3 separate regions of the Homo sapiens genome follow, and regions 1 and 3 are each linked to region 2. The links come from fine-mapping of genetic effects on gene expression. A gene starts in region 2. Each other region holds a variant in brackets. All regions are shown on one strand. Distances are from middle to middle. Region 1 overlaps CACNA1C (calcium voltage-gated channel subunit alpha1 C). Region 2 holds the start of CACNA1C (calcium voltage-gated channel subunit alpha1 C). Region 3 overlaps CACNA1C (calcium voltage-gated channel subunit alpha1 C).

The links.
Region 1: its variant is fine-mapped to the expression of CACNA1C in cerebellum (GTEx, PIP above 0.99). The same link has a PIP of 0.9 or more in cerebellar hemisphere.
Region 3: its variant is fine-mapped to the expression of CACNA1C in cerebellum (GTEx, PIP above 0.99).

The regions. Positions count from the first base shown.
Region 1 is chr12:2,367,697-2,378,106 of GRCh38, reverse strand. The region is part of intron 3 of CACNA1C (calcium voltage-gated channel subunit alpha1 C); the gene reads right to left. Among named protein-coding and RNA genes, the nearest start is that of CACNA1C-IT3, 100 kb to the right of the region's middle. RefSeq lists enhancers at 183-784, 785-1,388. The variant A/G (reference allele first, on the strand shown) is at 5,337.
Region 2 is chr12:2,047,752-2,058,161 of GRCh38, reverse strand. CACNA1C (calcium voltage-gated channel subunit alpha1 C) reads right to left here and starts at 5,175. Exons shown (of 47, transcript NM_000719.7): 1 at 4,551-5,175. The coding sequence starts at 4,599. It overlaps CACNA1C-IT2 (CACNA1C intronic transcript 2), which reads right to left and starts at 9,810. Exons shown (of 2, transcript NR_046768.1): 1 at 9,552-9,810; 2 at 8,699-9,028. RefSeq lists an enhancer at 8,077-8,578.
Region 3 is chr12:2,240,872-2,251,281 of GRCh38, reverse strand. The region is part of intron 3 of CACNA1C (calcium voltage-gated channel subunit alpha1 C); the gene reads right to left. Among named protein-coding and RNA genes, the nearest start is that of CACNA1C-AS4, 23 kb to the right of the region's middle. The variant G/A (reference allele first, on the strand shown) is at 4,642.

The DNA.
Region 1 (10,410 bases), 320 kb before region 2:
AGAAGGGTATGGGAGTCCAGTGAGCTCCTGGCAGAAGAGAAGTCATGACTCGGCTCTGCGGGGGATCATACTCTTCACACTCACCCCAACCCTCTTCTAGGCTCAAGACCACCAGATTACTGCCAGATCACTTAGTAAGGCCAATTCACTCAGCTCTCATTCCCCAAAGCTTACGGGAGCACTCAGGCCTACCTTCTTTCACATTTTCCCACGTAGTAGAGACAGTGAATTCTCCCACAGGACACAGGGAGGCCTCGTGTGTTCTTCAGAAATCATGGAGAAGCAGAAGGAGCTCCAGGAGCCAGGCGGACTCACTTGGCATCCTTTCCCCTCCTCATTAGCTGTGTGAACTTGGGCCAGCCACAACATTCTTGTGAACCTCACTTTACTCAGCTGTGAAACGGGGATAATACGCCCCACCTTTTAAGTGAGCAGTGCAGACTGGAGGAGATAAAGAACATATAACGTGTGCTCAATGCTCAGTACCTGTGGCTGTGGTGAAGGAGGTATGGGGTGTTTCTTTAGTATTTCCTGGCTGTCTTCCCACAATCGAAATTGCAACGCGAACCATGCTGACAGCAAATAAAACAAAACCCTAAATCCCTCGACGTCAGGGGCCCAGCACACCTGTGATAGCCGCTGTAAGGCTAGGCTGGTCGGTGAGTTCCTTGAGGGCTGTGAGTAGGTCAGGGGTGCAGCGCTGTTGCAGCTGGGTGCATGTGGTGTTCGCCATGTTTGTCCTTGCACTGCATGAAAGCCCCTGAATCCTGGGCTTCGGCATGACAACATCACCTCTTAGGGCTCTGCTGAGAGTCCTCCCAGCTTGTGCTCACAAACAGAACGGGGGCCGGGAGAGGAGGGCATTGAGGCCACACACAGCCCTGCTCAGTGAAACCCACAGCTCATGCTGGTGTTTAAATGCTAACTATGGGCTCCCAGGACAGCCCATTTAATTTCTCCTTTTGTTGGCCGTGTCCCAGCCCTTCCTTCTCCTCCAGGCCCCTCCTCAAATACCACGCCAGCTGGGGAGCTGCCCCTCCCCTAATTATTACCCTGGGGCTGCCAAGATGCTGGCTCCACCCCCGCAGAGGATGGCGGCAGAGCACAGAACGTGACAACAGCAGCAGCAGGTGGCCCCAGCAGAAAAGGCCTGATCATGGTCCCTGCGATTCCTACCATTCCTGGCCAGCTAGTGGGCGTAGCGAGCATGCTTTGTGTGGCGCAGGGGTTCTGCATTCTTAGGGCACCACCATCTTTCACCCCATCTCTGTGAAGCAGGGAGGAGGTGGGGGGTTTTCTGTGCAGCAATGTATGCCTAAGACACACTCTTCTAGTCAAGAATGTAGGATTGCTTAGCCTAGAGCAGCAGAATCCCAGTTAAGGTTTCATGTTGGGGTTCTTGGGGTGGTCTTGCCCTCCACATAGCTCCCCAAGGGAAAGGGCTCCTGTGAGCAGAAATATACTGCAGCTCACAGCCCCCTAGCCTATTACAGAAAGGTAGGACAATCCTTGGGAAGCAAGCAAAGTTTGCCGCCAGCAGCTCCCAGAACCTTCCTTGCACATTTATTCGTCCACCTGTCCGCCTAAGCTGTGCATCCATCCGAACACCCACTCATCTTTGCTGAGAACCTAATGAGTGAGGGCTCTGTGCCACATGCTGGGGATACAAAGGTGGGTAAGACACCATCTCGGTGCTATTTGCCCCCCTCCTCAAGCACAGGTACTCAGGGGGCATCATCCAGTTGTAGTTTATGAGGACTCTGCAATAAGAAGAAGAATGGGCGCTTGTCCTCACATACAGAGGCTCAGAGTTTAGTGGCTTGCCCAAAGCCACACAGGAGGTCACAAAGCCATGACTCCGACCTGGACTTCTGATCTAGAGTGTCCTCCATGGCAGTGTGTTCTCTAATGGCAAAAACAGACCACTTCCCCAAGCAATGGCTGAGACTGAAGGGGCGACTCTGGCCTTGAGCATGGCTGCTCCTTCTACTGAGCAACCATGTCATTTCACTCAATGTTTCTCAAACACTTGTTAGTGCCAGGCCCTGTGCTGGGCACCAGCCAAACTGCCTGGGGCCCTGCTTGTCCTCTTCCCCTGTTTTGATTTGCTTGCTTCGTTGTTTGGTTCTTCTTGGACTGTTTCTAGGTTGGTTTAGTCTTTGATACTCCTCCCATGTGAGAAGGTCCTGACTGGTTTCATCCCAGGGAAGGAAGACAGCTCCCAATCAAGTGGTGTGGTCAACGTCTTCCACTTTGCCATGCAGAGAGCCTGAGTTACCAGTGAGCTCTGGGCAGAACCAGTGGGCTAAAGACTCTCCATGGATTATATCAACACTGTCAGAATTGTCAAGTTAGGCACTGTCTCTAACTCAATATGTTAAGATACATATACTAAGACAAGGACTTGATTTAACAACAGCAGCAATAATAAGCATCCTTAGGGTATGATGTATAAAGAAAAGAGACAGCGGCCTGGAAAACCCACAGGTGGCACTTCAATACTAACTATAAATGGGAAGTTGAAATACCTCGGAAAAGAAACATCTGATCATCAAGGAAGAGCTTTGTAAATCATAGAATGGTATCAGTGAGTGTAACGTTGGGGACCTCCAGGCTAACTCCTTCACTTGGTGTTCAGAGAGCTAAGACTTAAGAGTACTCCCAGTGCCACAGGAGCCGAAGGTGGGCCAGACCCAGGAAACGCATCTCCTGAGCCTCATGCCAGGCCTGTTCTGCTGAGCCACGACACCGGGCATCATTCACTGGGCATCATTCTCATCAGAACCCCAAGCAAGCCCTGCTTGTACCTTGCAGATCTCAGCCCAACCTGTCCCACTGAGGCAGCACAGGGAAGATGCCAGCCCTTCTTCTGCAGAGTCTCAACCATCCTGTCTCCTTGGCAGCCGCTCAGCACATGCACATCTGCTGCCCAGAGAGAAGGGCAGTGTGTGAGAAGTGCGCCCTGCACTGGGTTCATGTTCCAACCCTGACTTTCCCCAGCCTGCTGACCTTGAAAGAATCACTAATCCTGTCTCATTTTGTTCCCCATCTGAAAACTGGAGCAATAATCTTATCTCTGAAAGCTTTTGTAAAGATGAAGACGTAGACTGTCACTGGAAGCACCTTATTATTGATATTGCCCAGTTCCCAGACAACACTGCCAAGCTCTGAGGCTGTCCTGCCACAGATCCCGATGTGAAGCCACCCTGCTCTCCAATGAACCCAACTTCCAGTGCATGCATGCCTTTCAGAGTGAGGAAACGCGCTTCTGCCTCATTGTTTGCTTTCCCGGCTGTGCTGGTTGGATGCAGCAGGGATAATGTTGACTGGAGATGGTTTATTTGTCACCTAATGCTAATGTGTCATCCCTGCAGCAGTGGTTATCACCTACTATTAGTATTCTTTGTCTGCTGAGTGAATGGCTAAGGGGCCCTGAGCTGGAGTGGACAGAAGAGGGGAAGACAAACTGTGGAGTTAGGAGCTGCTATGTGGGTGTAAGCCAGCAGGGAGCCCTGACCGCTCTACCAATGCCTCAGAGTAGGAAAACCACCCTGGCTGAGTTCCCACCCTGAGGCCTGGCCCACGGAAGGCCAATGTGGCGTGGGCTGTGATATGCTATTGAGACAGGCAGAGGGTTGGTGGCCTTGAATGCCATGGCTGGAATATTGAGTTACGAACAATAACACCCAGTCCCCAGTCATGGGAAAATAAGCAGGGCTTAGGGAGGCCCCAATGGGAGCCACAAATAACACCAAAGCAGAAAATGGCAAAAACAATTGCCACCACAATAAAAAACCACATAGAACCAAAACTTATGGCCAAATTTCCCACATACTGCAATCAACAGTCCATTACTAAAAAATTCCAGCATACCAGGGAAGAATGACAGGACCAGAGGAAGGCAGAGAGATGAATCAGAAAAGGAAGAGAAGAAATAATGAGCACTGGTAAGTAAACGTGCACGTGGGAAGACTACTAGTCTACTGTCTACTAGTTGTGGGGCGGAAGAGGGTGCTGGGTTCTAGCACCAGAGGCCCAGCCCTGGCTAGCGGAGTTGTGATGTGGGCCAGGTCCCTTGACCACTGTGGCAACCAAGTTTCCTCATCTGTAAAATAAGGACTGGACCCAGTGATCTGTAAGGCCCCCGCTGGCTCTAGAATTCTAAGAAAAAGGAATTCGGAATATCCCTTGAAGGCTGGCATAACAAAGTTCGTCATGCACAAGAGAGGAAAAATGGGACTGAGCTTACTGATACTGGAGAAAAGCATGAGGTTTGACTTGCAGATCACCTTCAAGCCTAAGAAGGGTGGCAAATATCTTTTTTTAATCGCCACTAATGGAAAGGCAAAAGGAAAATGGGCTTGAAGAGGGTTTGTTAAGGCAGCTGGAGCAAACTCATAAATACGAATATAATTCTGTTGTTTCCCTTCTGAAATACTTTCAATGGTTCCCATATCTATCACTTAAAATCCAATCTCTCCCCTGGCTCACAAGCCCTACAGCTGCGGCCCCTGAATCCACGCCAAACTCCTGCCCCATTGCTCTGCCCAGTTCAGAGCGCTCCATGCTGGCCTCTGCATGCTGCCTGGGACACCCTCTCTCTAGCTTGTCCCAGGGCAGGCTCCTCAGGGCAGTCGGGCCTCAGTGTCACCTCAGGAGACCTCTGCCGACCACTCACTTTGCAGCCTCCCCCAAAACTCCCCATTGTATATTCATGTTCCTGACATTTTCTTTACTTATTATCTGTCTCCCCCATGAGAATGTAGGTGCCAGGAGAGGAGAAACCCCGTTCGTGTTATTCAGTGCTCAGGGTCTAGAACGGAGCCTGCCACATGGAGAAGCTCAGTGAGCATTTGCTGAATGAATGAGGGGTGACAAGTAAGTAATATAAGTAGAAAACATATGGATGTTTTCCCCAAGGAAGGCTGAAAGGCACTCAAATGAAGGGTTGGGGAAAATCATGGATCCTCCTTCGCTGAAAGTCTCTTTAAAGAACAACGAGATGCTTTCCTGTCAGTAACGATCCAGTTCCTTGTCACTTCTCCCGCCACAGACCAGACCAGGAATGTGCCGAGTGCCCCAGGCTGGCTGCCCACTTTGTGACATACAGAAGCCAACACCGTGCATTCCTTTGGATGGTGAGTCAAGGAGCTTCTCGGCACCGGACTTGCTGGCCTCTCCTGGGGCTGCCCCCGCATCCATCTGCTACCATTGCTAACGAGCCCCTGGCCTCTTAGGCCTGCCCAGGGAGCTGCCATTGCACTACTGGCATGTCCCCGGACCCCTGAGGCTGACAGGACTTCTCACCAGCCAGCCAGGCCAGATGGACAGGCCTC[A/G]AGGAACATGCCAGGGGGCAGGCTAACGGATGGATGGGCCTTGGAAAGGGAGGCGATAGGGATTGACCCTCAAACTATGTTTTAATCTGCTGAGAACATTAAAGTGATCCATTGCTTTATTTTTTCAGGTTGCCAAAAAAAAAAAGGGAATGCGGATTTATTTATTATTATTATTTTGGTAATGTGGAGGATGAAAGGCAGGCAGGCAGGATTAGGTGGGTTGTGGGAAAATGTAATATTTTCCAGTACTACATGTGTCCATCTCTCCTGGATTAACTGGAGATCAAAGAAGCCCCTGCTGGAGATCTGCCTGTGTCATAAGGTGCAACGAGTCAACCTGATGTTGCTATAGGAACCAGATTTCTCCCCAGCGTCATGGCAACAGACTCCGGTGTGTTAGGCGCACAGTCTGCTCACACTGACATAGTGAGCTCAGGAAGAGAGCAGCAAGGGGTGGGGAGATGTGGGGGAGGCTGTACACAGTTCTCTTCCTAAACCAATCAGCTGAAAGCTCAAATAAATGAGCCTTACTTTGAATGGAGATGACGACGGGAATTGTGCATCTTTGTTGGAATAACTGCAGGACACTGAGGACATCATCAAACTTGGGGGTCCCATCTGTGGTTGTCTACATCATATACTATCTGTTCTTATAACGAGGGGTTTCACTGAGGAAGACTCCTTCCAAGGTCCAGTAAAACAACAAATGATAAACAACCAACCAACAAAACAAAACCCAAAAGAGCTAATTATGGGCCATTCTGAAGTCCATGAGCAATATTCTATTTCCTTCATGAATTTCTAAGTGACAATGAACTTCCCCACCATCTAGGAACATCTAAGAGGGGAAGGAAGAAAATTGCAGCATCCGCTCCCCTTAGAGGCTTTTAATACTCAACATCAATTTCTTTGGCCTGGTGACAGAGCCCATCATCCAGGTAGAAATGTGGATCTGGAAAGAACGGCCTCCAGTCTGTGATTTAATTCCACAAGTTTCAACACTATTGTCCAAGAGTCCGAGATTAAAAAAAAAAAAAAAAAAAAAAGCCATATGTCATTTAGTATGTGCTTGCTTCCTGTGTGCCATATTTTTTTTCTAGGTCTCTGTACCATCGGGCTTAAGAATATCTCCTTATTTCTTGCTCTTGACCTAAGGAGATGGTTCTCAAAGTGTGATTCCTGGAGCACCAGTGGTAGCAGCAGCAACATCACTTGAGAGCTTGTCAGAAATGCAAATTCTCAGGTCCTCACCTGAGACCTGCGGAATCAGAAACTATGGAGGTGGGGTCCAGCACTGTTTTAACAAGCTCCTCAGGTGCTTGTGTTGTAAAGCAAAGGTTGAAAACCAATGGCCAAAGGAGTCTATGCCCCTTCAACGCCTTCTTTCTGCCCACCTGGGCCTCCAGTCAGTCAATGATGGGACTGCAGAAATCCTACGGCTGGGTCTTTTGATGCCTTCTATTCCAACTTCTGCCCGATGAAGCCTCTCATCTTCACTCCTCAAGGATGCTTTGTGTCCTGGTGAGCTCACCATTTTGCAAGATGAACACCTGACTACACCTTACATGGCTCTAAAACCTGCCTCTCCCTTTCACTCCTACCCAAAATCTAGTTCTGCTTCCTGAAGCTACTCAGAATTAGTCTGATTTTTCAGCCTCATGTAGCCCTTTATGTATGTGAAATCAGCTATTCCATTGCCCCTAAATATCCTTGTTTCCAGGTAAAACATCCCTAGATCCTTCTGCAGTTCCTTATGTAACAGTTTCCAGATGGTTCCCCTGGGGTCCCTCACTGAATGTGACCAACATGAGAGGAGGACACACCTTGCTTCTCTTTAAACTTGGAGAGCAGACGAGCCTGACTGTACAGAGCATAGGGACTGCCCCCTCCCCACCTGGACACCGCAGACTGCCACCAAGGCAACCCAGGTCAGCTTCGACTACAATCACAACACCAAGCCTGGGGCAGTGAAATCCCCCCGATCCTTTTCATAAATGCAATAGTTAAGTTAGTCCTCTTTCATTCCTATTTTTTGAGGCTGAGCCCATAACTTAGCATTTCTAATACTAAATTTATCTCATTAGTTTTGGCCCAGAATTTTTATTAAGATACTATTGAATTTATTTTTATACTGTACAAAAATGTGATACTATGCATATTTATTTTCCTTTTAAACTTTATTCAAATTCATATGCTGTCCATATATTTTATATCCTGCTATTAATGTGAAATGAGCATTTCAACTTGTTGGCTTCAAAAACATAAGTTTTATTAGCTCATCATATGAGTTATAACACATTTAAACATTCCCCTTTGATGTTAGGTTCTCTCCTCTTTTCTTGCTGTTATACATGAGCTGAAATGAACATCATTATACGTAAATATAAAACTTTGTCTAATTATTTTTCAGCCCAAATTCCTAGATGGAAAATTAGTGGTAATAGGGTATGAACATTTCAAAGACCTTGATATGCATTGCTAAATTGTTTCCAGAAAGGTTATAACTTTTTTCTATTTCTATCATAGTATATGAGAGCCCATTTTACCACACCTATTGCTAATGTATTTTTTTAATCTGTGTTACTTTATTAAGTGAAAAATAGCATCTTCTTTTAATTTATGTTTCTATTTTACTAGTGAGGCTGATTTTAAAAATCAAAATGTATTTACCAGTTTGTAGTTTATATTTTGTGAATAAATCTGTTCACGTCCTTTGCCAAATTTTCTAATGGGGATGTGTTTCTTTAATTGATTTCTAAGATCTCCTTATACAGCAGCAATATTGACCCCGTGTCTACCACTTTAATAAACATTTTCCCAGTGTGTGTTTGCCTTCCAAAATTTTCTGTAATTTTTCTGTGGGTAAAAGTTTTCTATTTTTATGAGTTGAATCTCAGTCTTTTCTTTTGTGCCTTCCTCCATTACTTTCATGTTTATAAAGTCTTCCATAATTCTGGAGGCAGTTAAATAGTCTTTTTCCCCCAAGTCTTATGGTTTATTTTCTTTCATTTAACTATTTGAATCCACCTGTAATTTGCTTTGTCTAAATGTATAAGATAGGTATGTAGGCTGGGCGTGGTGGCTCACACCTGTAATCCCAGCACTTTGGGAGGCCAAGGCGGGAGGATCACCTGAGGTCAGGAGTTCAAGACCAGCCTGGCCAACATGGTGAAACCCTGACTCTACTAAAAATACAAAAAAAAAATTAGCTGGTTGCAGTGGCATGTGCCTGTAATCCCAGCAACTCGGAAGGCTGAGGTAGGAGAATCGCTTGAACCCGGGAGGTGGGGGATGCAGTGAGCCAAGATTGCGCCACTGCACTCCAGCCTGGGCAACAGAGCGAGACTTTGTCTCAAAAAAAAAAAAAGGTATGTAAAGTTATTTTATTTCCAAATACTTACCAATCCAGTCCCTGCCCTCGCCCACCTTCCTTAAAACTTCTTTGCTTCCTTTACCATATAGTAGGTTCTCATGAGCCACAGATGCACTGCATATTAGTTTCATTTTTTAGAGAAGCACCTTAAAGTTATTTTTACCATACATAAATTGAGGGGAATTTTAAACTGGTTTTGTAAGGGAAAACAGATTTTGTTTTCTAGTACACAGTATATGCTACTTTGGAGACACATAGGAGGATGCAAATTTTCTTCTGCCTTTGACTGATGCATTATTTTATGGCTCTGGCCTTCTACTTTTAAAATGGTGCTGTTGAATACAAGGTTATTTTGGACACATTTATTTTTAAAAATTTTATTTTATGCCCCAACAAATATCATTACTAGAGGCTGTTTCCTGGTTGTTTGTTTCACACAGCTCTGTCCGTGGATTCCTTTACCCGCACCATTCTGTTCATCTGTAGGAATGCCGTCTCTTATCCTTTCCTCACTGTGCTCATGACATATCTTTCTTGGTAAATTTGGTCTGGTTATTTTTCCAGATAAATTCTAGAATTATTTTTCTAAGCACTCTCCTTTCCACTCCCCACCAAAACAACAAACAATGCCCAAACCAAAATATAAACAAAGAAAATACACCCTGGGCTGTTGATTAGGGTTCTTCTTAAACTCATGAATTAATTTGGAAAGATTTGGCATCTTCAGATATTCAATCTTTCCTATAGAAATACGACATGCTTTCATTTATTCTAACTGTTCTTCTATATCTTTTAGTTAAATTTAATTTTGTCATACAGTCCCATGTGTTTAGAATATTTTCCCTAAGCACATTTTAAAAGTTTTGTAATTGTTGTAAATAGGAATTCTTTTCCATTTTATTTTCCAGATGGTCATTTTTGGTACATAAAAACTACTGATTATTAAACTATTTATGTCATATCCAGTCACGTTTCTGGGGCCCTTTTATTAATGCTAACTATTTTCAGTTAGATTTTCTAGGACTATAATCACACCATTTGCAAATATTGATAATTTTCTCTCTTCCTTTCCACGTCCTGCTTTGTTGTAGCCCCTCGACCTTTCACAACGCTGACTGGCAATGGTTCTAGTGCACGTTCCTTTCTTGTTCTTGATTTTAAAGGAAATGCTTCCAGGACATCATCACTAAATGTTTGCTGTTAGTTTGAGATACATTCTTTATCATATTAGCTGTCATTCTATTCCTAGTATTTTAAGAGTTGTATTTAAAATGGATATTGAGTTTTATTGCATGCTGCATTTTTTAGTTGACTTACCAATGTGATATATTATAGTATTAAATTTCCCAGCATTGAATAGTCCTTGAATTCATTGGCTGTGTCTTACCTAACTGTGAATCCAATGGATTCAATTTTATTTCATTTTTCTTTTTTCATCTGTGTACATATATAAGATTATTCTAAGACTTTTTTGGTGACATCTTTGTCAAGATAATGCTAATTTTATTAAATAAATTTTTAACTTTAATGTTCTTCTGTATTTTGAAAAAAATTATCTAAAGTTGAAATTTATATTTTTCTAGAAAGTTACAATTAAGATTTTCAAATTTCTTAGCATACCACTATGAATAGCATTCATTCTCTTATGCTATTATGTTTCCTTATTAATTTTTGCTCTTTTTTATTTCTAAATTTCCAGAG
Region 2 (10,410 bases):
CTCATGGAACTTGCCACACAACTAAGAAAACCGAGTGAAGAAAGGAATAGAAAAGAAAATGCCAGGCGCTGGAAAACATCACTGGAAATTAGAACAAATCTCAGTTACTTCCTAACCTGGGTCTCCTGAGCTTTTCTGCCATTACCCAGCAGGAGATCCAGGCAGACTCATAAACGGAAATCAACTGTGAAGTGCACCCAGTTGTTTTTGTGTTCTTTTCCCTATTAAAGTTAGGAAAATGTCCTCCTGCCTTTGGCTGGCAAGCTCTGTGACTGCACAGGTCTGGGTTCCCAGATCCCATGCTTCAGGTCACCCCATGCTCCACTGGGCTTGGGCACCACCGGGCCCTCTGGTTACTAAACCATCAGTGAAAAATCAGGGAGAAAATTAACATCTGGCCATACCAAGTTCAGCGATTCACCCAAAAGGCTTCCTCCAGGCTCGGCGGGATGCTGTCTGTGCTGGAAGGGAACAGACGTCTGTGGGAAGAGCCTGCGACGGACTGGGTGGGCTCCAAAGGAGTTCTCATTACAACAGGGTGGAGAGGTCACTGTGGGACCTGGGTCCCTCAGTGATGCCGCGAGGGCCTCCAGTGTGTGCGGCGGCACGGAGACACACTGGTCTTTTGGGTTACCTGTGCCGGGGCAGGTGTGGGCCTGATGGAAGCAGCACAGCCCCAACAGGTCACAAGCTCTAAACTCCCCCTACACCTTTCATCACCAGGCGGACCCTGAAGCCCCTTTCCTGACTCCTAAGCCCTGTGGCGCCACCTACTGGAAGAGGCAGAAGCCACATCTACTGCAGGTCTGGCCAGGTCGCATTCATTCATTCACGCAGACATTTATTTGTTCAGCCTTGCATCGAGGCCCTGGACTGAGCAGCGGCCTGTACTAGGAAGCAGGGATCCCAAGATGAGCAGGGCCTCGAAATCTCCAGTCAGTATGCTCCTTGGATCCCTTTGATAGGTCTTACAGAAGAACCCAACTCAAGCAGTTTTATTTGAAGAACAAATTGAAGAGACCTAGGTCATTGCCAAGACTGAGAGATGGTCCCACGGGGCTAACGGCTCATCATTTCATTTACAAAGCACTGTGCCTGCAGCATCTACCTGTAAGAACAAGTCTCCCTTTACTATGAAGAAGAAATCTTTAAACAGTCTTAGGAGACTGCATTATCAATACTTCTCTCTCAACACCCCAGGTCCCTGAAGGGCATTAGCCTCTCGTGTGATCTATTTAAAATAGCTTTTCCTTATTCCATGTGTGTATGTATACACACACACACTTAAATACTGTTAGTGTGTATTCTATGGAAATAATGAAAAATTGACTCTTTTTAATATATTGTCATATTCTAAAACACTAAAAAGTGCCTGACCAATAGTAGGAATAATATGATGAACTCCAATAGCCCCTTTCCTCCAGTTTTCTCCATGCAGGATCAAGAAAAAGCAAAGCTATTGCCACAGCTTTCTTTAACCTGCTCAAGCTGATGTGCGAGCAATGTTGTTCTCTGACCATTTGTAAAGAAAGTTAACTGTGATCATTATTATTATTACCTTATTACAGTGATTCTTATTCTGCTGAATCGCTAAGTAGTTAAAAGAAAAGCACAGTGTGTCTTGCACTCCCCAAACACATGTTTCTCCCCTCTGCCTTGTCTCTAGCAGATAAGGGACATTCTGGTGTTTTATTTGTTCAATGGTTGACTATTAAGACACTCATTTGCTAGCTGGAGCCTGCAATAGAAAATCGGCCCAGAAAAGTGGGAGGCTGGCACAGGCCCAGAGCAGACAGGGCACCAGAGGCGAGGCAAGGCTTGAGTGTGCCACCCCAGCCTGAAACCCAGGGTCAGAAGCTGGTCCTTCAATGAACTTCCAGGCTGTTCCCAGGCACTGACCTCCAGTCTCCAGTTCGACCCTCAACACACACACACACACACACACACACACACACACACACACACTCACACACACTCACACATGCACACACTCCACGGAAAAGGTGAGGGAGCAAGGACTGGTGCATTCCACATCTCAGAGCATGTCGGGAAGAGAGGAATGCACAGCCCCCGCCACTGACAACTTTTTTGGTTCTCGACTCTTTGTTTCGTCACCATTACTGATCTTCTGAGGCAGTCCTAGACTCCTCTTCTGTCTCCTGAAACTCTAACCCCTATGATGGCTCACCCGCCCCCTTTAGTGATTAGCCACAGCAACCTCTTCCTTGTCAATATTCATTCTGTTCTAGGTCTGCCCTTCCCACCTCCACCACCCTCCTCCCCTCTCCTACCCCAACAACCTCGGCAATGCCAACCAACTAAAGAAGAGAAGATGGAGAGTAGAGGGGAGACAGGGATCTTGGTGCTCTTCCACCTGGGAACCGCATCTAGAAATGGAGGCAAAACTGCTCCCATGAATTATATAATCACTGCAGCTTCAAGGGAGAGAACTGGAATTCAGGTTGCCATAGCGTTTGCTGGCATGTTGCTGGAAAGGTAGAGCTCTCAGCCGCTGGCTCCCTTGCTCCCTTCCCCTCTACCTTTCTCAGGAACCTCTCTGGGGTTGGCACTCCTACTTTTAATGTCTGCTCCCAGCATACAGCAGGGAGATGCTGAGAGGCAAAGGGGCCAAAGAAAACAACCAGAGTAAGGAAATGGGTTCAGAAGGGGTTTATCCTGCACTAAGAGGAGACCTTGTAAACTAGTTAAGATTATCATCCTGTGAATAAGGTGAATAATCACTATTATTACCACAGTACATTGCCATTGACAGTGATACTTAGGGCAATACTACAGAGCTCTCCTCTTCAATGCTGCTTAGACTGAGGAGGTGGGTAAAGCACGCAGTCTCAGAACCTGGAGGGGAGTCATCTTGCATCCCCACTCTTCACAAATACCACCCTCTTTTGTGTCTCACTCCTTCCCTCCTAAACCATTCACTAGCCCATCAGCTACAGAAGGGAGAGGGGATCAGGTGAGGGATGGGGTCAACAGTAGAGAAATCCAAACATGGATACTGCCCTTGTGACCCCAAAGCTCTGGCTCACCCTAGAACCCATGACCCTTGACAAGATTCTTTCTTCCAAAGGAGGCCACAATCCCCAAGCTGCCACCCATGCTGGAAAGCAGAGAAGACTGGCCCCAAAATCGGTTTCAGGATAGATGGAGACCAGGCAGGCTGGATGGCAGCTTCTGGCTCTAAAGAGTGAAGGCCCTGTCCCCAAAAGGTGGAGCTGGGAGCAAACAGAGGGAAAAAGCTGGACAAAAAGACCTGGAGACAACTCCTTCCACCAGGCTGGTCTTCAGAGGATCACTGGGAAGAACCCAGGGAAGGAACAGAGACCAGCAGTGACAGATAGGCTTTCAGGGGAAGAGAAGAGGAAGAGTGCAAACAGGGAGGCTCTGGGAACTGGGAGAGAAAAGGGAGAGACTACACCCAAAGAGACAGAGCAGTGGCGAGAAGAAAGAGATGTCATGCCTGGAGGTTGCCAGAAAGCCCCGCTGGACCACCCTGTCTGCACCCCCCGTCCCCAAAACCTTAAATGCTAAGCAACGTCCAAGAAAACAACTTGTTAATATGGGGGGAGAGCGGTGAGGGAGAAAGTTTCCAGGAAGTAGGGAGTTACCTGACTGCCTTTCACCATCACAGGGGGAGCTGGTGACACTCGCGGCCAAGGATGGAGATGCTCGGAAAACACTGGGCAATAGTATGGAGCCGCGTGAGCCAGGCACACCCTTTCATGATCTCCTTCAAACACGAAACAGCAAAGCCCACACACCGCCCGGCTCCTCGCCGCTTCCATCCTCAGGTGCTAGCCCACATGTGGGTGCGAATGAGAACACACGCGGCGTGGGCGCGCTCGGGGTCAACAGCAGTGGAGAGGTGGGTGGGTGTAGGTGAGCGGCGGAGGAGGGAGGGAGAGAGGAAGAAGGGGACCTACAGAGGGGGAACCAGAGGGGCGCGCTGGGCTTCACATCTGCACCGCCGCCCCCACCCGCCACCTGGAGCGCGCCGCCCAGGGCAGGGGCGCCTGGACGAGAGTGGACGCCGGGCAGCGCGAGGGCGCCCCAGGGGCGGCCGTGGGCGCCGGGCTCTGCCGGCGCAGGGTGCGCGCGCGCGCGCTCCCAGCCGCGCCCCGAGCCGGGCGAGGGACCCCGGGCCTCTGGGCTCCGCGGCGCCGGCGCCCTCTGCCCCCCGCGCGGCTGGCCAGGCAGCCGGGCTCTCCAGGCGGACGCGAGAAAGCGAGGCGGCGGCAGCCACTTGGGGAACTTTTCCCCCCTCGCCTGGAATTTCACAGGAAACACATGCTCTGGAGAAGCTGGGGCCCGGAGGGGGAGGGGCGGGAATTTTCCGCTCCGTCTCGCGCGGCGGTTCGGGCCCCGGTCCCGCCGGGCTCCCGGGCGCTCCGACGAGGCGGAGGCGCCCCTCGCGGACGCGGCCCCGGGCCACTCCGCAGGGACCGGCCCCGGGGCCGCGGGGAGCGCGGGTAGGGCAGGAACCCGGTGGAAAAGGCAGGGAGCCCCGGCGAGGCGGCGGGGTCCAGCCTTACCTTGGTGGTTTTCCTCTGGAATGTACATCCTCGTATTCTCATTGACCATGGACCAAAAATGGTTTTAATAGGAGGAGCAGCCACGAAGAGGAAGAAATGTGAAAACACCCCCCGGCGGGTCTGGATTAATCCCTCCTCCGAGGCCGGCGGCTTTCGCGCAAGATTCGAGGAAGCCGTGGTCTGCAGCGTTTCTTCTTCCCCGCCGACGATTACCTGATTCCCATTATGGCATCAAACCCCAAAAACTGCTCCTTTCCACTACTGCCTCCTCGAGTGAAACTGTAACGCATCCTCAGTACATCCGGGCCCCTTCCAAGAACTGAGCACCGCACCTCCGGCGGCTACACCATTTGAAAAAATAAATCGGGAGAGGCAGGGCGAGAAGAGGCGGAGAGGAGGGGCGGGGGGCGCGCGGGGCCCGCCTGGGCCGGCAGGGGCCGAGGCGCCTCTGCCCACTCCCAGCGAGTCCTCCTGAGGCCCCTGCCCGGCTCTCTGCTGTCAAAGGGAGCCGGCAACTCCTGGGCGCGGAGGCAGGAAGAGCCGCCGCCGCCGCTCCGGGCCCGCCGCGCCGCGCCGAGCGCCGCTCTGGCAGGAGCTGTTTCTGCAGAGGCAGCGAGAGGGAGACACCGGGCGCGCGAGAGCGCCGCGCTCACTCCCCCCGGCCCAGCCCCGCCGCGCCCGCGCCCGCCCCTGCCCGCGCCGCCCGCCCGCCCGCCCGGCGCGCCGGAGGCAGACGCGCTGAACGCTTCCAGATGTGGCTGCGGCGGCGCGCAGGGAGCCGGGCGCACGGCGCGGGGCGCACGGCGGCGGACTGGAGCCCGAAGTCGGGCCCCCTCCCGGCGCCCGCGGCAGCGCCGCCCGAGCGAGCCCTCCGCCCGCATGACGTCAAAGGGAGCGGGCCCCGGCCGCCGGCGGGCGAGGGGCGGCGTGAGGAGCCCCCGGGGAGGCCGGGGCGCGCGGCGCACCCGGGCGCCAGCCGCGGTGGCCGCGGTGGCCGCGGCGCGGACACACCCCCTCGCGCCCCGCCGGCGGCGTCGCGCCCCCCGCGCCGGCCTGCAGCCCCCCGCCCGCGTTCTCTCCTCCGCTGCGGCGGCGCGTCCCTGCTGGGCCGGCCACGCCGGGAAGGCCTCTGTGAGCGGAATTCCAAGGAGGAGGAATACAATTTGCCCGACTACCAGAGTCTCGTTTCGGATCGGGCCACTGAACAAAACGGCAAGATGAGCCGTGATTCCGTGATTCTGTTTGATCAATTATAATCAGAGCGGTTGTAGAAGTGACAGATAGAGGAGGGGAGGGGAAGCGGGAGGGGCAGCGAGGCGGAGCCTGGTAGGCGAGGCAGCGGTGCCCAGATGTCTGAACAGATTCCTAGACCCAGGTTTAATAATTCCTTGGAGGCAGCCGAGCACGTGTTCTACTAGGATATCCTTACCTACTTCTCTTAATTATTTCTGCAACTCCGGCAGGAATCTATCCAGCACCTCTCCTTCCCGGAGAAGCAAACACTTCCCTCCATCACTCCCTGCAACCACAGCAAGTTCCACGGCACCCCCTGCAGGACCGGGCTCCCCTCCAGTGGGGCTTCGTGATCCCTTTCAGGGGGGCCTACAACTCCCTCTTGGGGAAAACCTCTACCTGCCTCCACATAAGACCTCCTCGCCTCCACATCCACCCTCATTCCCTGGGTGACCCTAACCATTCCCGTGGCTTTCAGCAGCTGTCTATATCAAATGTCTATCTCCAGCCCAGACCTCTCTCCTGAATTCCAGACTACAGCTGACTCCGTCTGATAGACATTTCAAGCCTAATACATCCAAACACTGGATTCCTGATCTCTTCAAAGCCTGCTCCTCCTCACACAGCCTTCCCCATCGCAGTCGATGACCATCCCATACTTCTAGTTGCTCAGTTCAAAATCCTGGAGTCACTCTTGACTCCTTTCTCTCATCATTCCACGTCTAGTCCATCAGGAGATCCTGTTGACCCTACCTTCAGGTGAATTCAGAACCTGACCACTTCTCATTTCCTGCACTGCCACCACCTGGGGCTGAACCAGCATCCTTCACCCAGGTTTCTCCTGTGGCTGATCCCCCTGGTCTACCTTCCCTCTCCCCTCTGGTATTTTCTCAATACAGCAGTCGGAGTAACCCATTTAAAACATCACATCCCAGCACTCCTCTGCTCAAAACCATCCATGGTTACCCATTTCACTTAGTAAAAGCCATGGTCCTTGTGGTGACCTACAGGAATGGCTGAGTACAAATCCCCTTACATCATCTCCTACTGCTGTCCCCCTCACTCGGGATACACTAGCCTCCTGGCTGGGCCCCAGACACTCCAGGAATGACCCCTCAACACACACGCACATTGTAAGGCCTTTGCTCTAGCTATTCCCACTGCCTGAAACACAAACTCCCTCGGCTTCTTCAAGGCTTTCCGCAAATCTCACCTGTTCAGTGAGGCTCACCAGGACCTCATCCTGATTCAGTACTGACAGACCCCCACAGCGCTCCCTATCTCCCCTTACTCTTACTGAAATCCTGTCTAACATACTATATAGTTTACTTATTCATTAACTTTATTGCTTATTGTCTGTATCCCCCCACTAAAATGTAACCCCCATGAAGGCAGGTGTCTCATCTATTTTGTTCACCAGTGCCTAGAGCAGTATCTGGCAGATAGTAAGTACATAATATGTATTGAATAAATGAGTGAGTGCCTGAGATACTTTCAGGAGTGTTGCAATTCCCCCTATGAAAATGCATCTGTCCGTCCCTTGGTACCTGAAACCTTACCACTCCTGTTTCCTTCCTTTGTCCAGTGGTTCTGGCCCCAGTGTAAAATGCAAGTGCCCCTGGGAGAAGTATTAAGCTGTTTCGGTCATCTTCATTCTAATGTTAATAGCGATCTCAATTTTGTTGGTTACAAGAGAAATCTGGCCTCTTTGCCATTCTGGTGTGTTCATACTCAATTTTCAACTTAATAGAGAAAATTAGAAATGACACAAATTCAAATATTTCGCATTTACTTTAGGATGCATTATAGGCCTGTGTTTCAGAGGCTGCTGTAGCTGATAATTTGTTTAAATGAATAGTAAAATTGGTTTGCATCCCCTTTACACACAAGTGCAGGAATAATAATAATAGCTAACACTACTGAGTGCTCTGTGCCAGGTACTGTGATAGGCCCTTTACAGCCTTTATCTTATTTAATCCTCACTGCGATCCAATAAGCTATGTGTTATCGTCATGATTATCCCCATTTTACAGATATGGAAACTGAGACTTCGAGACTTGAATTACAATGTCCAGGGTCACCCAGCTGAGTAAATGTGGAGCCTGGACTTAGCCCAGGCATATCTGACACCAAACTCAGTCTCTACTATTATCTTACTCATTCTTCTGAGGGGTGAAGTGTGGGTGAGCTGGTGGGGGCAGGGCTGCAGGGAGATGAACAGGGTGAAATGATTGCAAAATATGCTGCAGATAATTCACAAAGAGCCAAGTCACTGGGAACAGAGTGTATGTGTGTTAGGGGGTCACGTGCAGGATTTATAGCCCAGCTTTTCTAAAGGTAGGCACTGTATAAATCTAGCAAGTAAATATTACCTCCACGCTTCTTTAGTTTCATTTTTCACTTCTCTTTTCAGCTGTGAAATGTGTTCTTTCCTTTCCAGAAAAAGGTATTTCCTAAATATTTGGTCTTGCAGTATACGCCCATATCCCAGCTTTTAACTTTGGAACACAGCCCTGGGTGTGCTCTTTCGAGGTAACAAATTCTCAACATGACAAAAGGAGACCATTGTGAATTCCGATTTGGGGATTTGGGAGGTGGTGGGAGCAGAGGAGGGAGTCTGCATTTCTCTGTCATTGAATGATTTGATTCTCCAGCTAAAGAATCTCCCATAGGTCTTCATGTGTGCCCTCTTTCTGCATAGTATTTTGCTTATATTTGCATGAGCCTTTTTCTCTCCTCTTCCTTACTACATTTTAGGTGTCTTCAAGAAGAGAACTGTGTTTATTCTTTGTGCATAACATAATGCCTTGTACATATGGACACTCAATTTGTGTTGAGTGCATGATTCACTCTGGAAAAGATTTTTAAATGTGACCACAGATATTTTCTTTGGAAGCAATTAAGAGTGCACTGAATTTGTTAATTACAGTATATTTGTAAGAGTGAAAACCTGGAAATGAACTAAATATTCAACAAAAATGTTGGTTAAATAATAACACTGAGAGATTATTCTAAGTGCCTCACATACATAAAGTCATTTGCTCCTCCAAACAACCCTGTGAAGGAATTGCTTTTATCCACATTTTACCGGTGAGGAAACCAAAGCACAGAAACGTTTACTCACTTGCCCATGTTTCACAGCCAGTTGATGTTGAAAGACCTGGGATTTGAACCCTAGCAGTCTTCAGAGCCTACGCTCTTAACCACCGCATAGATGAACTAGAGTGCATTCATACAGTTAAATTCTACATAGACATGAACAATATTAAGGAAGAATATTAGTAACGTGGAAAAAGATGATTTACATTAAAAGAAAAACAAGTCACGAAAATATTACAGGCACTATGATTTCATTTTCCTTTTAAAGTCAGGTTTATATTTGAACTAGGGAAAAGACTAAATAGGGTTCACACCAAAATGTTGACAGTATCCTCAATCTGGGGCAGGTGGGGAAAAAAAGTGTTGACAGTAGCTGTCTTTGGGAGGTGGGATTACACGTAAATGTTTCTTCTTCTTCTTCTTCTTCCCTGTCTGGTCCAAGGCTTGAAAAGCCAGGTTGCCAAGCAGGCTCTTCCTCTTCCCTTAGCACACACACACCTCTTGACACAGAGCCCTCCCCCCACTGCCTAGCCAGGGACAACACTGCTAATCAATCTCTTCAGAATAAGTCTCCCATCAAGTCTGCAAGGTGTCCCTTCTATTTCTCTCCCTCTGCCCACCACAACAGCCACTCAGCACTAAATGCTGCCACCCACCTGCAAAAATTACCTGTGCAGTGTTTCCAGCCCAAATGCATTGCATTGTCCTCATTGCAATCCAAGCTGCCTGGTTGAAGTGTCAGCCACTCTGTGTTGGTCGTAGAGAGCTAGGAGCACCAAGATGATGGGTAAATCTTAACAGTGACCTTTTGGGAAGATGTTTCATCCTTAATTTCTAATCCACATAATTGCCTGTATATAAGGGTGGGCATTTCAAACCAGGTAAAGTTGATTAGCAAGCCAGAGTAGGAAGAGTGGAGTCAGAAAGCCCAGCTTAAATGTGCCTTCTGACACCTTACCTTCTTTATCTCCACATAGGGCCACGCACAACCGTTCCTTCTCAAAGGCCAGCGATGGGAACATCAGTGTGGTGGTTTTGCATTAGGTCAACTTCACTAAGCTGGAACCTATTTCCCAGAATTGCCTTCCTTATGTGGTTCTGCGTTAAGGTTGTCCACAACAGGTATTTGTGGAGCCTCTGGAAGGTGGACATGAAGCAGCAGCATGCGCTCATTGTCACCGAATTGCTGGCTCACCCTGATGGTGGAGCCCACAGCTCCTCCAGCTCCTGCTAGATCTCCTCCTTCAGCTACTCTGAGGCCTGGGCAAAGTACGTGTCCAGCTCTGTAGTCAAGATTCCAGCTTTATGTTTCATGGTCGAGATCGGAAGTGGTGAAAGGCAAACAAGGGTTTTATTTGTCCTTGTGGGCTCCACTTTGGCCTCACTCTCTCCCACATCATGTCCTGCTTTCCTCCGGCCTTTTGGCATTACGGCAACTTCACACCCATCCTCAGATGCAGAGGCAGCAGCCTTCTAGAGATTCTTCACCAGCTTCCACAACTGGATAAGGTCTAATCTCTGCAATCAA
Region 3 (10,410 bases), 190 kb before region 2:
ATGTCAGTAGACCACACTGTCCAGCAGCAACTCAGCTTCCCTTTGCCCTTCACCCCCATGACCTTATGCTGACTGTCAACGTGATCTATTTTCTCCCCTGCTCTTCAGAAGCCCTCAGCAACGATTCTCCACTCCCCAGATACTGATGACAGAAACTAAATGATCAAGAAGTATTCATATGAGCAGACACACATCCCTCTCAAACTCAGGCTCTTCCAAAGTGACATGACTGTTCTGCAGACGGGCTGAGCCAACGCAGAACACACTGTCCCTCCTTCTGCGTCATGCTGGAAGTTGCTCTAAGTGCAGGATGTGGTAGAAGTCACCAGGGTGGATGGGATGGTCTGTGTTCCAGCAAACCCACAAGGACAGAAGAGCCAGCCTGGGCTGGTTAGGGAGAGGACAGCTTCAAGGCTGAAGACTAAAAAGTAGAGCTATTATTCTGGGTGGCTTGTCGTCATCTCCACTGAGAGCAGAACAAACCCCTAAAGCATGTGGAATTTCCATTACAGACAAAAAAGAATTATTGGACAGTGAGGGTCATTAGACAATGGAATGAGTGCCCAAGGCTACAGCACTGGCATCACCACAATGATCAAGTCAGGAGGGCCGGCTGGGGTTGGGAGGTCACTGGATTAGAGATGGATGACCAGGGCTCCATTGGCTCAGTGGGTATTTAACGCATGGCCTTGGAGGAGGTGCCAGTCTCTCTCCACTTCAGCTACAGCGTAGGCCATCACCCAGTTTGTCCCCCTGAGTAGTTGCTATGAAGATCAAATGAGATCATGGATGTAAAAGTGTTCAGTGAACCATAAATTGCTACCCAGATATCAGCTGTCATCAACCACACCCACAATCCTGACTAAAGGTCTCGGGATGGAGAGAGGGTCTTGGCCTGTGCCCTTCAGGATTCGGTGCTGTGCGTGCAACCTGGGAGTTTCTGCCCTGTTAATAAGCTGAGTGCTCCCAACTCCAGGTGCTGGGAGGTGAACGGCCCAGGGTTGGAAATGTCTCTTCCTGGAGTGCTCAGTGCTGATGCTGGCCAGGTGGAGCACAGAAGACAAATGAACTCCGCAGATACTGACTGGGTGGGCTCTGTGAGGCACTGTCCATGCCTCAGGGAGATGGACTGATGCATCCTTGTCCTTGAGGAATCTAAAGAGAAGGCAAGGCAGGCCGGGTGCAGTGGCTCACGCCTGTAATCCCAGCACTCTGGGAGGCCGAGGCAGGTGGATCACGAGGTCAGGAGATCGAGACCATCCTGGCTAACACGGTGAAACCCCGTCTCCACTGAAAATACAAAAAATTAGCCAGGCGTGGTGGCGGGCGCCTGTAGTCTCAGCTACTCGAGAGACTGAGGCAGGAGAATGGTGTGAACCCGGGAGGCGGAGCTTGAGGCAGGAGAATCGCGTGAACCTGGGAGGCGGCGCTTGCAATGAGCCAGGATCGCGCCACTGCACTCCAGCCTGGGCAACAGAGTGAGACTCCATCTCAAAAAAAAAAAAAAAAGAGAGAAGGCAAGGCAGATGTCACTGATTCGGAGCCACCGGCCGAGTGAGCCCTAGACTAGATTTTAGGCCTGGCCTCACCTTGGACAGGTCACGTGAGTCCCCTGAATCCCAGGTGCAATAAACAGGGAACAATCATCACCTCTGTGTGCCCACTTCACAGAGCTAATGTGAGGGTTGGGGGTGACGAACTGCAGAGGAGTACCAGCAGGAATAACAGCAAACATTTACCTGGCATCTGCTCTGTGCCACACACTGTTTAAACCTTTTACAATCAGAGGGCAACAAACTTTTTCTGTAAAGGGTCAGGTAGTAAATATTTTAGGATTTTATTTTAGGATTTGTAGGACAGACAGTCTCTGTCACAATTACTCATCTCTGCTGCTGCTGCAGAGAAACAGTCACAGACAAGACATAAATGGATACGTGTGGCTATGTTCTGATACCATTTTATTTACAAAAGCAGATGGCAGGCCGGATGTGGCCTGTTCGCCAGTTCACCAACTCCTGCTTTGCATACTTCCCCTCACCATGACCCAGTGAAGTATACGTCACTTCATACTCACTTTACAGATGAGAAAAGTGAGGCCCAGTCACATGAATTAACTTGCTCAATGTCAGAGAGCTGTTAAGTGGCAGGCTTGGGATTTGAAGAAAGGCAGTCTGGCCCCAGAGTCCTTACCTCCTTACCTCTCTACTGACAGCCTATTCAGAACGCTAGAAATGAAACGTGACAACCACTACATCAAACTGAGGTGCCAGTCAAGCATGGCCATAATAATAGCCAACATTTCCTGAGGGCCTATTTTACGCCAGGCACGGTGCCAGGTGCTTCCCAGATGCAACCTTCATAGCAGCTCTGTGAGAACAGGACTATCGTGATGCTCATTGTACAGAGGGAGAAACAGAGGCTGAGGGTTACCATAACTTGCTCAAGGTCCCAGAGTCAGCAAGTATTAGAGCCATAATAGAACCTAAGTCCGTCACCGCCAAGGTTGGCATTGCCCCTCCACACCGTGAGGCCCTCTTGCCAGGAGGCAACATCCGCTCCTGTCTTTCGGTTACTTCTTTCCAGAGTAAAGGTAGACACTGTTCTCTTCGAGAGTTTATACCACTGCGGCTTTGAACACGGGAGCGTGATGCACTGCCTTGGGGATGATCACCCCCAGGAAGACAGGAAGGCTCACTTCTCTGCCCCAGTTGCAGCCATCGCCTCTCCAGCACCGACTCCTGTCTGTCCTGCACACCACTCAACACAGAGCATCTGCCAGTTTCTACAGCACTGCAGGCAGAACACTCACTTGCAGGCTGCTAACTAAAAATACTGGAAAATGGAGCCCAGTGAGGCGGCCTCGGTTCCTTCACAATGGAAAGGGATGATCCCGTGGGTCCTTGGCCCGGTGCAGAGAAATGTTCCCTGGAAGGACAGCACGGAGATTCCCAGCATCCAACTCTGGTTCCTGGACTCATCTCCTCCTCCCCTTAACTGGTCAGGAGCTGAGCATGAAAGAGACACTGCTCACTGGTTATATTTATAGAGCAGAGTCCAGCAGCCAGGAAGTGGACATTATGGGAATGTACAGTGTAAACACAGCATAGGAGAGGAGATTCTTAATTACTTTGCAATGGACATTTGAGCCAAACCTTCCTAGGTTAGCTAAGTTGTGTGTGGTGTTACTGTTTCTCCAATGAACACACACACACATATATACATAGAACTTAATTTTAAGTTAAAAAAAGTTTGAGTGGAAAAAGATGCCCACGATTCAGCTCAATTTTAGAAATAACTAATTATATTTGAGAATGGGAGAGAAGAGTTCTTTCTGGCTTACAAAGGTTCTCAGCCACCTGTCCCCCCTCTGCAGTGGCCACAGCACCTTTTCTCCTTTCCATGTACTGTTTCTTGCTTTGTTCCTAAAATTCAAGTTGTCTTCCCCTCCCTTGGAGAATAAAGAGAAAGGAGCAGGTGAGAACGAGACTAAGTGGAGGTGACAGAGAATGAAAAGAGGAAGCACAAAGAGGCTCGGCAAGAATCCAGAATTTTAGAAGGAAAAAGAACAAGTGATTAAAGACCTAGAAGGTTTCAGCAAAAGTTTCCTTTTGTCCCTTTGCAAAATCTTGCCATCGTCCATAGGGAACTGAGGAGGGACCAGGAAGTCTAGATTTCGCCGTGGCTGCCCACCAGGAAGGTCAGGAAGCCTGAAACTCAGCCATGGGGACAAAGTGCCCACCAGGCGGATGAAGTCTGCAGTCACATTGCCGTGTTAAACTGGGACACTCCATCACAAAATGGCATGGTCGATTTCTCCCAGCCTAGAAAGCTGTGAGGAATTTCCCCACGAAGGTTATATCTCATTTTGTCACATGCAAATTTAGCTAATTAAAACCCACCCGGAAAAGGAGTTCAAGGACAAGAGAGCATCAGACTTATAGGAAAAACAGACCCTGCGGCATTGACAGGGCAGAGAGGGTGCAGGAAATCAAAGAGTGACCTCACAGGAAAAGGCGAGGGTGCTCCCAACTTCCATGCAATGCACTGTGACCATATAGAGAGAGCAAGGTTATAACAGGCCATCCCCGCTGCCCAAAGAAAATGTCCTGCCTATTTTTAAGACAAGAATAAAGGATAATCAGGGTGAAAACTGGAAAAAAATTCCAGAATGAATTGAAGGAAGCTACAGATTTGCAGGAGTCAAAGGGAAGAAGGAAGGAAGCTGATTTAGCCTTTCTTACTTTATAGTCTTAGCTTAAGTTTTTCAAAATTTTAATTCTACCTATCGGGGAGTTATTGCAGGCATGTGTAGGCATGTGTGTGCATGGGGGAAGAACGGCCTGGAAGGGGATGGAGAAGTGGGGAGACAGGGATGCAGCCGCTATGCATGAAGCGTCAGCCCAGGGAACTGGCCTCCTTGAAGACAGGAGATTACAGTTCTTGGATGGGTCATGACATCACCCCTCACCCCCAACCTTGGCCAATGTGCCAGCAGGTTTCTCCATGCCCAGGCAGCGGTGTGGACCAGGAGAAAAGCTTCCTTGCTGGGACCTATAAAAGAACAGGTTAGGACAGAGCGTAGCAGTTAAGAGCACACACACACCATGCTGGCTGGGTTCTCACCACAGCCCCCACACTCGC[G/A]ACTCACGGGACCTGACGACCTACCCTCGGTGTGCCTCAGTTTTCTCATCTATACAAAGGGGACAACAACGGTATGAATTGCACAGAGTCGTCATGGGTCCAGCAGTTACAGGAGTGCCTATTACACAGGAAGCACTGTGTAAGTGTTAGCTGCTATTACTCAGAAACACGTTTCAGGCAGGGAGGCATGGCTCAGTGGGATAAGGAAAGCCTGAGATTCAGGATCCTGTTCACTCCGGGAGCCACCATCTAAAAGGCCTTACTACAGCCTCCTATTCAGCAGATTACTTTCCTGCTCAGAATTCAGCCTCGGCCCCCGATCTACAGAATTGGGTCCACTCTCATCTGCTGGGCAGCAAGGTCTCCAGCATCTGCATCCCCTGCCCAGCTCTGCCGAGCCTGCCCCACTGCAGTTGTCCTGCCACAGCACTGACTGTGGGCACTGTTCACCTTAACTGTCCCCACGCCATGCCCTGTGCTGTTTGCTGCCGGCACCATCTTCTCTTGCTCTGTTTGCTTGCCCTTCCTCCTGCCACCCTAACGGCAGGTGCTTTGTGGTGACTCTGAACAGGGGGCCTGGTTCTATGTCCATCCCACCATGGGTGTACCACGCACAAAGTTAGGGTACTGAGGTTTCACTCCAACTAAGCAACAACATGCAGGTAGTGCTCACTGTGTGCAGGGCCTTCTAGAGCTCCACGGTCCCTTATTGGAAACCCTTGGGGCCAAATGCATTTCAGAATTCAGAATGTGTCAGGTAAAGTCATTTGCATATCTACTGTATGTAATAGCACAGCAGGGTGAAGGGCCCCAGAAGCCAACGTATTTCTGCAGTAAATCATATGAATATTCACTCTAAGCAGGTTAAATAAGACTGCAACTACCCTTGTGTCAGTTTAGGACAACTCTGCCCCAGATGAATTCAGGAAAGGCCAGATTTTGCTGTCAAAGGGATAATAAATGAACTTTCACTTTTCAGAGACTTGGGGATTTCAGAATTACAGAGAAATGGCTATGGATCTGTACTAGGTGTTCTGGGGTCATAAAGATAAATATTTTTACACAAAGGAAATAGTATAACTGCTGCCTTTGGGAGGAACAAGGAAAGGAGCCCAAGCATGGGCACATTCTAGACCACCCGCTCTGAGCCTCAGTTGCCTGGTCTGTGAAATGGGATGACACTCTCCCGGCAAGGAGAGGTTTATTATAAAGCACCTGAAACACACTGCTCAGAGATCTCATGTGTGTTTGCTTCTCCCCTTTACTGTTCAGTCAATGAAAATTTAAACCCGGGTGGCTAAGCAAGCATGCATGTGCTGAAGGGTTCTCAATGGAGAATGGAGCTGAGAATGGCTCAGCTAAGAAGCTTCCTGGAGGGAGGACTCAGCAAATCCTTATGCTTCCATTTTGCTGTCTTCAACTAGGAGGAACAGAATGCCATTAATTGAACCACCTTCTTAAAGTATGCAAATCCCAAAGAATAATACAATTCCCTTTGCTCTCACGATCAGCGCGGCCCCTCCACATGGCCATGCTGTTTCTGTCTTGCCTGCTCCTCTTTTGCACTTTCCTAGACACTTTCTTTTTGAAAGACATCAAGCACACAAGTACGTTCAGGCAATCAGTTCAGCAGCAGAATTGCATTTACAGCCCCAGAGAAAAACCCTGTGGGAATGTCAGGGTGAGCAGACAAGAAGGCCTTGGCTTCGATGGGTCTGGGTTTACAGTTTACTCTGTTTGTTTTTTGTTGATAAAAGTAAAGTCTTCCCCTGCCCAGTATCCATTGTGAAGCATTCCCTTTTACATAAATGAACCTAATCCCCCTGTTTATTAACATTAAACTTGATATTTACAGCCCAAGTGCTTTATCAGCATTAACCAATAATCCTCAGTGAATTCTTGCAGGGGGAGTCCACGTGAGGCACTGAACTGCTCAACAAGAGCCTTGGCACAGCCCAAAGCAGGTGATGGCTCTGCTCTAGGAAGGAGGAGGTGCTTATAGGACTGACCTGTGGCTTCACCCCTCATGCCCTACACGGCAGACTTCTGCATTCCCTTCTCTCTAAACACAGAGGGAAGTGTGTGCAGCCTGAAAGGTAGTGGGCACAACATGGTTAACAGGGGAATCCTGAACTACTGCTGGGACCTGGGGGGCAGTTTCCGGAGGAGATGACTGTATTTAGTGTTTTGCATAGGTAATGATGGAAGGATGAGGTCTGTGTTCACCTGGCACCTTCCCTTAGGACCTTCCCTGCCTAGTGATAAATACAGGCTCAGGCCCTGAGTGCTTCTGTTCAAAAGCGGAGCTGCAGCCATGAGTCAACACCGCATTCCTGGGCTAGTGGTAATGAGCACAGCAGGCAGCTGACGTCCCACAACGCATGCTAGGGGAGCCGAAGGCCCCTTCACAATGAAATTAATGAAGGCTGTAGCTGAAAGACTCTTGGAGCAAGTGGCTAACTACAGACTCAGGAGGGCAAAGGCCCTGAAACAGATAGATGAATCTGAGCCAAGAGCAGCAGGGGATGGCCCCACAGAGTGGGCAGGATGCTTAAGGGAGCTCTCCAGAGATGCTTCTCTCTGGTAACAGTTCACCCAGGTCCTCAGTGGAGAGAAACTGGAATTCCACATCATAACTCAGTTCTATATCCATAGTTGTACATAGTTGGCCTGAAGTTTAATTGAAAACAGCACCATTTCCCTTATGTGCACCTAGTCATTCTCCAGTTGTCTTTATTATCTTAATAAAACCTCAAGTTAAAAGGCTCCTACCAGTACTGTTATAAAGGAATATTTGTATTGACTGAACCTCATCTGACAATTGCAGCGAGGAATTCAGTGCCCAGCATTGGCAAAACCAGATAAACAGTGCCCTTGTGAGTACTGCTCTAACAAAGCAATTTATAACTGGACTACACATTGCACTTGAGCACCTGGCCTGTTCCAGGGACAGACTCATGAGGTAGCTACTATTATCCCATTATATAGGTAAAGAAACTAAGGCTCAACAGAGTTAAGTTGCCCCACAGCCAGGGATTAGTCAAACCCAGATCTGACTCCAAAATGCCATTTCCACTATGTCATTTCATACCTTCTCATCATCCCCCCATGTGGTCTTCTTGGATGGTGATCGCACTGATGGCAGCAGTCACACGTGCTATCATGCATGTTTGATCAGTGGCTACCAGCAGACCATGAGCTGAGGGTTTAGGACTATGAGCCACCAGGCCCCTGACTAACCTCAGGCACAGCCCAGCTTTGGTTTCAAGTTATGGTTCTCTCTCAGGTGGCATCTCCACTTTCCTATGATTCAATTCATCAGCAATTACTTACCAAATGATTCTATGGGCCTCTCTGCACTAGACTTCATCCCTGCTTCCAGGTACTCACACACAACCTGGTTAGAGAGGTAAGATCATGACATATCAAATCGTCAGAGCTCAATTACCATGGTGTATGGATGAGTGCCACACTATGAGGAAATGGAGGGCATACACTTATTAGTAATAACCCATATAAGTAAGCTCCTTACTCCTTCTTATGCACCCACATAGCACTTAACAGCTTACAAAGACAGATCTCATTCTATCCAAAAGTTCAAACAAAACACCAAACCACACAGCAGATAAAAGACCCAAATGACACAGCCAGCTCTACCAATTATAAACCCTATGATCGTGGGTAAGTCACTTCACCTCTCAGACCCTCAGTTCTTTCCTCTTAAATTAAGAATAACCACACTTGCCCCTGCTAACCACACAGGGTTCTTTTGAGGATCAAATGAAATCACGCATATGAAAGCACTTTGAAACTACAAGCCACACAGCTGTACCATGGTAGATTATTGGACAAGCCAAATATTATTGCTCTCATTTACAAACAAGGAAACTGAGGCTGGAAGCAGACCCGGGACCAGGGCCCAAGTCTTTAGGTTCTTTGGCCAGAGGTCTGTCCTCTCCATGACGATGCTTCACTAACTAGGAGCAGGTAGGAAGTAAAGAATCCGGTTGGGCCTCAATAATCTAGGAAGACTCCCTGAAGTAGAGGCCAACAGGCCACTGACATAGTTGATTAAGAATAAATTTTTTTGAGTCATCATTTAAGAAACAGTAGGTTTCATACAAAATCCAAATTTTTGCCTTGAAAAGTCAGAAGAGCTCATAACAGCGGGCACAGACTTCCTCAGTGATGACCGTCTGCTGTGGCCGCCACCTTTAGGAAACACCTGTCATTTCAGTTCATCACAGTTACCCTGGTCCCCCATTGTTCCTCCAGCACGGAGGCCAAGTGTCAGTAGCTAGTTTTCATTATCCTTGCATTGCTGTCTCTGTGTAGCAATGGAAGTGAGTATGTTTCTGCGGGAAAGTGAAGACTCCTCCTGCACCTGTGTACCTTTCTTGCTTATTTCAGCAAGATTTAAGTTTGCATTGTCTGACCTGAAGGACAAAGAGACTCCCAGGAGATAGGGTGGCAGGAATGTAGCAAGAGCAAAGTATGGCTGGGAAAACTGAGCGTGGAGGTGGGAGGCCAGGTCGGAGGATGCGGCCTGACTGGGAGGAGGGGCTATGCAGAGGGCACAAGGACAATGGAGGACTGGGAAGACTTTACAGCTAAGAAATGAGGCTGCAAGATGGAGCAGGGAGCTTGAATGATGATGGCGATGGCAGGGACAAGGGCACCATGCATGGTAGTGCCAGCCCAGGGAGCAGGAGAAATGGAAATTCTGATGGGCAAGAACCAGGAGAAACGCCTTGCGAACTCATTCATTCAAAAATTTACTGCGGACCCACTGCGTGCCAGGCACACTGAGTTCTCTGGGAATACAGCAGGGGATCAAACATAACAAAAAATCTCCACTTTATGGCAGATGCAGCCACATTGGGAGGGATCTTTCCACAAAATTCCCCCATGAATGATTAAGGATAGCTGCTTCTGAGCCACGGAGGACAATAGGCAGAGCTGACTGTGACAGGGAGAGGGGATAGTCAAGGCGTGAGGTTAAAAATGCCCCACCTGCCAGTGCTCAGCTGGTGAAGGCACAAAGCAGCTGGAACTACCTGCCCCATCTGTCTTCGGAAGACCCAGAGGAACTTGAGCATGAGAATACACATAGCTGGTCCTGCCACTCCCCCACCTGCTTGGCCAGGCTGCACACGTTTTGCAATTGATCCCATCCCACACGCGTGCTCTCCTCTGCTTGCCACACTCTGGGACAAGGGGGGAGGCATAAAAAACATGGCATGATAAAAAGATCTGGAATTGGGATGACTTGAACTCCAGCTCTTTCACGTGACCTTGGGCAAATTACAGGATCCTTGGCTTCTGGTTTCTCATCTTTAAAAATGGGGACAATATGATTTGCCTCAGAGAATTTCTCTAAGGCTGCCATGACATCATCTATGTGACAATACACAGCCAGGCCAGCGCGGGGACATAGCGGGGCTGCAGTCAATGCTGGTCTTCTCCATGCGTGGGAGGATGGAGGCTTCTTGAACCACTCGCAAGTCAGAAATAAAGCTGCCAGGAGCCTCGCAAGGAAATGCTTGCCCTCTTCCCACCCCCCTCACCTCGTACTGGTTATGTAAACCTTGGCTCACTCTGGCATTATTTGAGAAACATGTGAAATCCCCTCTGTGGTAACTCCATTTGGGTTAATACTTCCATCCCCAGTAAATTCCTGTTAAGATGCAAGCATAATCCCTGGCGAGATCCCACCCTGGCAGAAGCACCCACTGAGACGGTGTAGAGAGGGGACTCTCACCCTGGAAA